Homo sapiens: one gene and its partner. The protein of the gene in region 1 purifies or fractionates together with the protein of each later gene. This does not show direct contact. Each region holds a gene or a part of one and is shown on either strand. Other genes may lie near its edges.

Region 1 (5,275 bases):
GGATAAAATGTGAATTTACAGACATAGACCTTGCCCTCATTTTACAGTCTAGTAGAGGATAGAGACAAGTAAACAATTACAAAATAGCATGATCAAGTCTTCTAATGGGGGTGTTTGGGAATTAAGGAAGGCATCCTGGAGGAGGTAGCACCTAGCAGGAACCTGAAGGATGCACAGGAGCTGGTCAGGCAAAGAGGGACAGGAGTTACAGGTTTCCAGGCAGAAGAAAAGAGAAGGCCTGTAGGTGTTTGAGGACCCGAAAATACAGTAGAAGATTGTTTACCTGAAATGTCTAGGACTTGACCTGTTGTTTCATATTAATGTGATTTCCGGAGTTTAAATGTCTTAACTCCAGGAAAGCATAGTGAATTACTGAAATTACATTTTGGTACATAAGATACAATTGTGTAGTATCAATTCACTGCTTTAAAATAGTTGTTACTCGCCAAAACATGTGAGTGAAATGAGAACCACCACAATGCTTGTATCACTGTGACTTTCCCATCTGCATCCTTGCTAGCTACCCATAGCCTGGGTGCCCACATCATCACCATGCCCCAGTCACTAGAACAAAAATCACACTTCAATTATTATAAAAGAGTATTTTACAAAATGGCTAATTACAAAACAAAACAAAACAAAACACTCCTGGAATAATTTTGTCGGAAAGCTCCCAGGGTTCCTGGATCCCTTCCCACAGTTCTACAAGGGTGGAGTGAACAGGGTGAGGCAGGAAGTGGCTGTAGATGAGGCAGGAGAGGAACGCTGTGGCCAGTGACAAATGGTCTTGAATAACACACTAAGAAGTTTGAGGAAGAACAGTGGTGAATCACTAAAGGATTTTAAGCAGGGGCATGATGTTATAAAGATTTATATTTGCAAAAGCCAGCTTACTCTAGCTGCAGTGTGAAAAGGGCTGGTGGCAGGGATCAGGGGACATGACTGGAAGCAAAGAAGTCAGTTAGGATGCCGTGGTGTTCATCTACACAATGGATGACAGTGACCTGAGTTAAGGAAAGGAAAGTGGAGAGGATGTTTCATTCACAGGCACTGGACAACTGACTTGATATGGCAAATAAGAAAGACAAGAGTTAAAGATAAAATTCACATCCCTAGCTTGTGTAACCCGGAGAATGACAGTGCCATTCACTGTCACCCAAGAGGAGGAGCAGGTTTTACAGAGTCATGGTAAGTTCATTTGGGACATGCTGAATTAAAGTTGTGAATACTTGTGGAATAACCAACTAAATCTATCCCATAGGCAGTCATGTACACGTATGTGTAGAACTCAGAGGAGCATTCTGGGCTGGAGAATCAGAGAGTAACTGAAATTACAGGAGTGGACAAACTCATCCAGAGAGAGTACATCAAAGGACATGGGAATAGGGCCTAGGATAAAACTCTGGGTTTTGCCAACCTCAAGGAACAAGCAGAAAGGAAATGTGAAAAGGAGAGGTGGGGGAAAACACAGGGAATGTGGTGCCACAGACACCAAGAACAGAAAATATTTCAAGGAAAAAAGAAGTCAACAGTGATTAATACAGTTGGGACGTCCAAAAAGATAAAAGGTTAAAAATGTCCACTGAATTTATCAACAAGAACTTGTTAGCGACCTTGGCAAAAACAGTTACAGTAGACACAGTAAGTCACCCCACGTCCCATAAAGCTGACCATGATCCTTCCAAACCTGTCTTGCCCATCTCTGAATGCCTCTGCCACCTAATTTTCCATGTTATTACTGTGGTACTTAATCACATATGATCTTGTACTATTAGTCAAATACTTCACATATGTTGATCTTGTCAGTGATGGCAAGGGCTATGATATATAATTCTTTCATTACTGAAAGTGTGGCCCATGGACCCATGCCCACAAACTGTTTTGTTACCAATTCATGATAAGGTAAGTACAGAAATCAACAAAAGGCTTTCAGAAACTTTTAGCAATTTAAAAAAATAAATAAAGAGACACTTTTAGCAATTTAACAGAGTAATTTTGTCTGTTGAACTCAATAAAAAATGCCTTGTATTTTATATGTGTTTAAATTTTCACTGTTCTAATGTTTCACTTTTACTATATTTTACAAGGGATTAACCCATGATGGATTAAAGGAGGGAAAAGGGTCCTCAAAGCAGCACTGCCCTTACAACATCTCCAAGGGTGATGGATATATTTACTACCCAATCTTATGGTACTATGAGATTGAATGAATAAATGAATGAATGAATGACCTATGACAGGAAAATAAACAGAACCCAAGGGAGAAAAAAAATCTCTGAATGTGACTATCATATGAAGGACATGTGACTAAGATAACTGACTCGGCTAAAGCTGTGGGAGCAAATCATCAAGTGATCCAGGTTATGCCAAACATGTGAGGTGTGTTTATCAATGGAGAAAGCATTAGTGAAAAGGCAATTTTGGAAGCCAGTCTAGAAACCAATTAATTTAAGGGCACTTTGGCCTTCTGGCAGGGAAAGGTTGCCTGGGAGAAGGCTCTGAGTTAGGCTGCTACCTGCCCCAAGCTGGCAGGAGTGCAGCTGGACTTAACCAGGGTACCTGTGAGCGCCCATTGAGGAAAAAGCTCTCCAGGAGTGGAGTTCAATGTAGAAATAACTTGGCTAAGTAAGTAAGTTCGCCAAAAATAAAGTGTGGAAAACTCTACTGGCCTGAAGAAAATGGGCTGGAGCATCCTAAGTTTGGAGAAAAAGGAAATTCAGACATGTAGGTTGGCCCTGGGTTCCCAACCCCAGGCTCACAACCTTTTTATCAAAAGCCTCTGAGACAGTGAATTGGGCTCTGTGCTGCTACTCACTGGTGTCATGGTGACAAGCGGAGAGGGTCCCCGTGGGCGCTTCAGCAGCTGCTGGGCATGCAGTTGGATGTTGGCTCCTCCATCTGATGCCCTCCGGCCAAGGGGGCCCATTCCATTCAACAGCTGTAGCGTGGGCGGCTGTAGGAGAGACTGCTCCTGCCAGGAACAGAGTGGGGAGGACGGACCATGAGATGAGGGGAAGGCGGGGAGAAAGGGGCAAGCCACTCATCTATGGAAATTAAGGGAGCCATGGGTCATGACAGAGACTAGAGGACGCTTCCCGCTCACCCGAGCTACTTTGCAAGATAAATCATCTTTCTCTATAAGTAAACCCTTAAGTCCTAGGGAAGGTGCCTCATAGCCTCTCAAAGGAAGCTCAAGTTTGTTTCTTCTGGAGCCAGCCCTCTTCCATGTCTAGGTACCTTGTACTCAAGTTGCCCGGTTGGTTGCAAGTTTTGCATAGGCAACAGGTTGTGCATGAAGTTCACATTAGGGGCCACCTGCAGGAATGGAGCCTGGGGGTTGACTCCAGGAAAGCCAGGTAGGAGCTTCTGCAGATCTTCCATAACTTCCGTGCTGATACAAAACAGAATGACAGAGAAGTTTAGTTAACATTCTTACTCAAAAGTGCTTATATCCCAAAACTGATGGCATTGCTATGTTCAGTACAACTTATTTTATTTTCTTCCTGAATTTATGTTTCTCTTTAAGATCCTAAAGCAAAGCAAAAGCCTAAAGTGTGGAATTTAACTCTCTGCTCCTTTACTATTTGGGACGAAGGATTGCTATTCTTTATTGGCCATTCATGTAAAACCAACAGCTCTGAGCCAAGAGGAAATAGTGGCACCAGTCCAGTTCAGGTTTTCAAATCCTGGAGGTGAACACCAAGTTTCTGGAGAACATGGGCCATCCACTAAGATAATGGCTGCCTGAAGTAGCAACTGATTCACCAGGGAAAGAATGCAATTACTCTTGTCAGTGCTGATAGGACAGATAAGTACTAGATGTACAGGGCTATCTTGCTACAATGATAGGTTTTACAGCATACTTTAAAGTAAGACATCTTTCCACTAACAGAGCGACTCAGGGCTCCACCCCTTTAAAGCTATCTCAGTCTGTGGAGCCAGAATGTTCCCCTATTGCCTATTTGATCATAGGCTGAGAACAAGAGACATAAAGCAAGCACATCAGCAGGCATGGGAGTCTTTTTTGGAAATTCACTGGAAGAAAAGAGATATTTATAAGAAAACCAGCTTTGCCCTGATTTGACCTCTCAGGAGAATTCTTCCCACAACCTTCTCTTCCTACTCAGCAAAGAAAAAATCCAGAAAAGAGGTAAGGCTATTTTAATGTTGAGAGTCTTCAACCGTGGAACAAAAATGGGGCGAGCTGGCCTTCAGTCCATTTTTTCCAGTGTGCAGGCAGCAGGGAACATCATGAAAGACTATTTTGGGAAAACACTTTGGGAAACTGTTGTTATTGGATTTTGGATCCTTATTCATTTAAATTTTAATTGTCTACATACATAAGTTACATCATATCATTTGTCCACTTGGCCACTGGATTAGATCTCCTCTGGGGATACAATGTAGTAGGAAATGTGCCATGGTAGACACTGAAAGTCAGGTGACAATTCTTTGCCCCAGTGTTAGTGAGGGCTGTTGGCCGGATACTCACCGTGGGTCAGCCACACCCACTGTGTGCCTCCTCATTGACAAATAGCGCACCAATGCTTCAGGGGAAGGCTCTTCACCCTCATCACTGTCCAAATTCAGTGTCCCATCCGGCTGAGGTGGAGGGAAACACCATCGAGTTAGAAATCAGAAGGAAGGGAAGCAAGGATATGGCAAAGAAAGTGGTTTCAGCTGACAGCTCCCACAGGTTGCTACTTGCCTCCACAATTTGGTTCTCTGGGTTGATCAGCTGCACCTGGGGAACGCTGATGTTCATAGCAGTACCTGCCTGCTCCGCCTGGAAAGCAGTACATACATATACACGCATACCTTTAACACTAGAGAGAAATAATGAGTCTTTCCAAGTAGTCTTGATTGCTAAAGTCTATGTTTCCCTGATTACTAAAGTTTTTGGTTCATCGGCCCTTAGAAGTCACAACAAGGAAGCATCCTGTGAAGAGGATAGCATCGCCTCATGATTTGCTATTTCTTCAAAAAAACAAAAGGCACAACTATTGTTGCTCATCCCTCCTCTCCATCAAAAAAGGTTCAGATCTTTGATTGGCCTCTGACAAAGGAAGAGATGACAAATGGGAGGAGACAGAGGTAAGGAAGAGCAAGAAACTCTCGACTTAGGGTTAGTGAGCAACAGCTAACCTTTACCCCCCTGGTGTTACTTGTCCTGAACTAGGTCACTGGAGTTATTGCCCACCTGGATATTGACTGGTGCTTGAAAGGCCAGGGCTCGGGGCATGCTAGGAAGTGCTCCGAGACGCAGGGTTTTATG
Region 2 (3,500 bases), on another chromosome or scaffold:
ACAATAGGCAGCATGCAGAAGGGAAAAGATACTTTTTATAACCTAGAGGCAGCTTTTCTCTGCTTTTGTGTCAAGAAGGAAGAAGGGAGTTTGGAGAGGGATACAAATTCTTTTTAATACTAAGCTCTCTACCTCAAAACCAGAGATAGAATATGTAATAATTTGTAGAATTTCTAGACTTAATCTGATTTAAAAAAAATTTTTTTTTTTTTAGGTTGAGACTGAGCTAAAGTTAATCTGTTGTGACATTCTGGATGTACTGGACAAACACCTCATTCCAGCAGCTAACACTGGCGAGTCCAAGGTTTTCTATTATAAAATGTAGGTTCTATACTAGAAGGGAAAATGTAAGATTGAAAGTTGGTCCTTTTAGAACCATAACTTTGTTCTATGTAGGTTTTCAACTTTTATTTAAGAATAATTGTTCAATGTTAGAAGGATAGTTAATATTGTAATGAAAAGGTGGTTGGGCTATTATGAAAATGTATTAGCTTTTGCTTATTTATATTCTTTTGTTTTTGTGAGACCTATCCCATTCCCCTCCCCCAAACGGCATACATTTCACAGTGCTTAGTGTTATATATAGACATTTTATTTTATGATTAATAAACTGTCATGCCATTCCTTGGAACCACTTGCTTGTTTAATTCTGGTCTATCAGGTGATAATTTTATTAATTTTTAGAGGCTCCTCAGTTAATTTCCTGGGATTTTTGCTTATATTTAGTAATATGAAATGTCTAAGGAAAAAAATGAAACGAAGCCAGTTATTCCTGAGAGTGTTTAAAATTATTGAAGTACACCTAATTGTTACATATATTTTTGTCACATTTTATATAATATAGAACAATTTTAGCTTATTTTCCTTTAAAAATCGTTCCTAGTTTAAATTTTTTTTTTTTTTTTAATTTTGGTTTTGTTTTAGGAAAGGGGACTACCACAGGTATCTGGCAGAATTTGCCACAGGAAACGACAGGAAGGAGGCTGCGGAGAACAGCCTAGTGGCTTATAAAGCTGCTAGTGATATTGCAATGACAGAACTTCCACCAACGCATCCTATTCGCTTAGGTCTTGCTCTCAATTTTTCCGTATTCTACTACGAAATTCTTAATTCCCCTGACCGTGCCTGCAGGTAAGTTGTGGGGAAGAACAGCAGCGCTCAGCGTGAAAGTTAAGGGGGGCGCTGTTTGGGTTTTCCGTGTTGTTTCTTGGGCCTGTCTTTGTAGACTTGGCTGCATAGTAATTCTTTTGGCTCTTACTGAAACTACTTTGGATAGTATTAAAACAGACCTGTCTCAACCCACTAGCATAGCAGTCAGCATAATTATTTTGATGTGGGATATTTTTGTTGCTGGTAGATTGAAATCTAACATGTTAAAATGAGTAGAGGAAGGAAATGAGAGGAATTAGAATTATTTTAATTTTTGTTATATTAGTTTTCAGTCTTTTTTTAAATTTGAGACCATGTCTCACTCTGTCTCCCAGGCTAGAGTGCAGTGGCGCCATCTCAGATCACTGCAGCCTTCACCTCCTGGGTTCAAGTGATTCTCCTGTCTCAGCCTCCTGAGTAACTGGAGTTACAGGGGCCTGCCACCATGCCCAACTAATTTTTTTTGTATTTTTAGTAGAGACGGTGTTTTCACCATTTTGGCTAGGCTGGTCTGGAACTCCTGACCTCAAGTGATCCGCCCGCCTTCGCCTCCCAAAGTGCTGAGATTACAAGCATGAGTCACCACACCCAGCCAGTGTTCTGTTTCTATGGGCATGTTTTTAATAGTTACTCTCGTAGCAAACATAATTTTATATTTTCTGTTTTAGCATAAACAAGTTTCAGTCTTACTAATGTGTGTTAAACTGTTCCCCCATTTATACTTCAGCTTGTTCCCAGTTTTTGATAATGTAGATAAATATGTAAGGAATATTTATACGTACATAACTTTTTACTTTTAAAAAGTTGTGATAGCCTGGGTGCAGTGGCTCACGCCTGTAATCCCAGCACTTTGGGAGGCTGAGGTGGGTGGGTCACCTGAGATCAGGAGTTCGATACCAACCTGACCAACATGGTGAAACTCTGTCTCTATTAAAAATACAAAATTAGCCGGGTGTGGTGGTGCATGCCTGCAATCCCAGTTACTCGGGAGGCTGAGACAGGAGAATTGTTTGAACCCAGGAGGCAGAGGTTGCGGTGAGCCTCGATTGCACCAGTACACTGTAGCCTGGGTGACACAGTGAGACTTTTTTTCAAATCTCTCTCTCTCTCTCTCCCCCTCTCTCCCCCCCTCCCCCTCCTCCCCCCCTCCCCCTCCCCGTCTCCCTCTCTCTCCCCGTCTCCCTCTCCCTCTCGCCTGGGCGACAAAGCGAGACTTTTACACACACACACACACACACACACACACACACACACACACACAACAATTTAGTGGCACCGAATACATTGACAGTGTTGTGTAATCACCACTATTTGAAAACTTTCTCTTCACCCCACACAAAGCGAATTATAGCCATTAAACAATCAATAACTTCATTTCCCCTCTCCCTAGCTGCTAGTAACTTTTATTTTACGTTGTCACTATGAATTTGGCCCATTCTAGATACCTCATGTAAGTGGGATCATATAATATTTGTCCTTTTGTGGCTGTCTTTATTTCATCTAGCGTAATGTTTTTATCCATGTAAAAGCATGGATCAGAGCTTCAGTCCTTTTAGTGACTGAATTTACACAATTCATTTTATGTATTTTGCACACATTGTTTAGTCATTAAACTTTTGGTGGTCAGTGGGTTTCCACCTTTTCCCTATGGTGAGTACAATGCTGCTATGAAAATGGGTGCACTAAGTATTTGCTTGAGTCCTTGTATTTAACTTCACCTTGAGGTGGAATTGGGACTGAAAATTCTGTGGGTAACTTTTTTTTCCGGACAGGATCTTGTTCTGTCTCTGCAGTTGTGCACTCATAGCTCACTGCAGCCTTGGCTTCCTGGGCTCAGCCGATTCGCCTACCTGAGCCTTCCAAGTAGCTGTCACTAGAGGTGGATGCCACCATACCTGGCCTTTTCTTTTCCTTTTTTTTTTCTTTTTTCTTTTTTTTGAGGGAGAGCCTGGCACTGTCACCCAGGCTGGAGTGCAGTGGCGTGATCTTGGCCCACTGCAACCTCTGCCTTCCAGGTTCAAGCGATTCTCCTGCCTCAGCATCCAAAGTAGCTGGGATTATAGGCGCCTGCCACCATGCCTGGCTAATTTTTTGTATTTTTAGTAGGGATGGGGTTTCACAGTGTTGGCCAGGCTAGTCTCGAACTCCTGACCTCGTGTGATCTGCCCGCCTCGGCCTCCCAAAGTTCTGGGATTACAGGTGTGAGCCACTGTGCTTGGCCAGCCCTTTTTTTTTTTTTTTTTTAAGATGGAGTCTCGCTCTGCTGGCCAGGCTGGAGTACAGTGGTGCGATCGCAGCTCACTGCAACCTCCACCTCCCAGATTCAAGCGATTCTGGTGCTTCAGCCTCTC

Evidence for each region. Proteins that work in one complex are often made in the same cells at the same time.
Region 2: the proteins of SIK3 (region 1) and YWHAE purify together in Homo sapiens (affinity purification with mass spectrometry; 4 studies listed by BioGRID and IntAct, with this or other methods). This does not show direct contact.

What each region holds. Positions count from the first base shown.
Region 1 is NC_000011.10:116,870,666-116,875,940, forward strand, and holds part of SIK3 (serine/threonine-protein kinase SIK3), read right to left. Parts: coding exon 5,201-5,275; intron 4,787-5,200; coding exon 4,709-4,786; intron 4,603-4,708; coding exon 4,493-4,602; intron 3,392-4,492; coding exon 3,238-3,391; intron 2,972-3,237; coding exon 2,816-2,971; intron 1-2,815. UniProt on the Homo sapiens protein: Positive regulator of mTOR signaling that functions by triggering the degradation of DEPTOR, an mTOR inhibitor. Involved in the dynamic regulation of mTOR signaling in chondrocyte differentiation during skeletogenesis.
Region 2 is NC_000017.11:1,358,723-1,362,222, reverse strand, and holds part of YWHAE (14-3-3 protein epsilon), read left to right. Parts: intron 1-214; coding exon 215-321; intron 322-924; coding exon 925-1,131; intron 1,132-3,500. UniProt on the Homo sapiens protein: Adapter protein implicated in the regulation of a large spectrum of both general and specialized signaling pathways. Binds to a large number of partners, usually by recognition of a phosphoserine or phosphothreonine motif.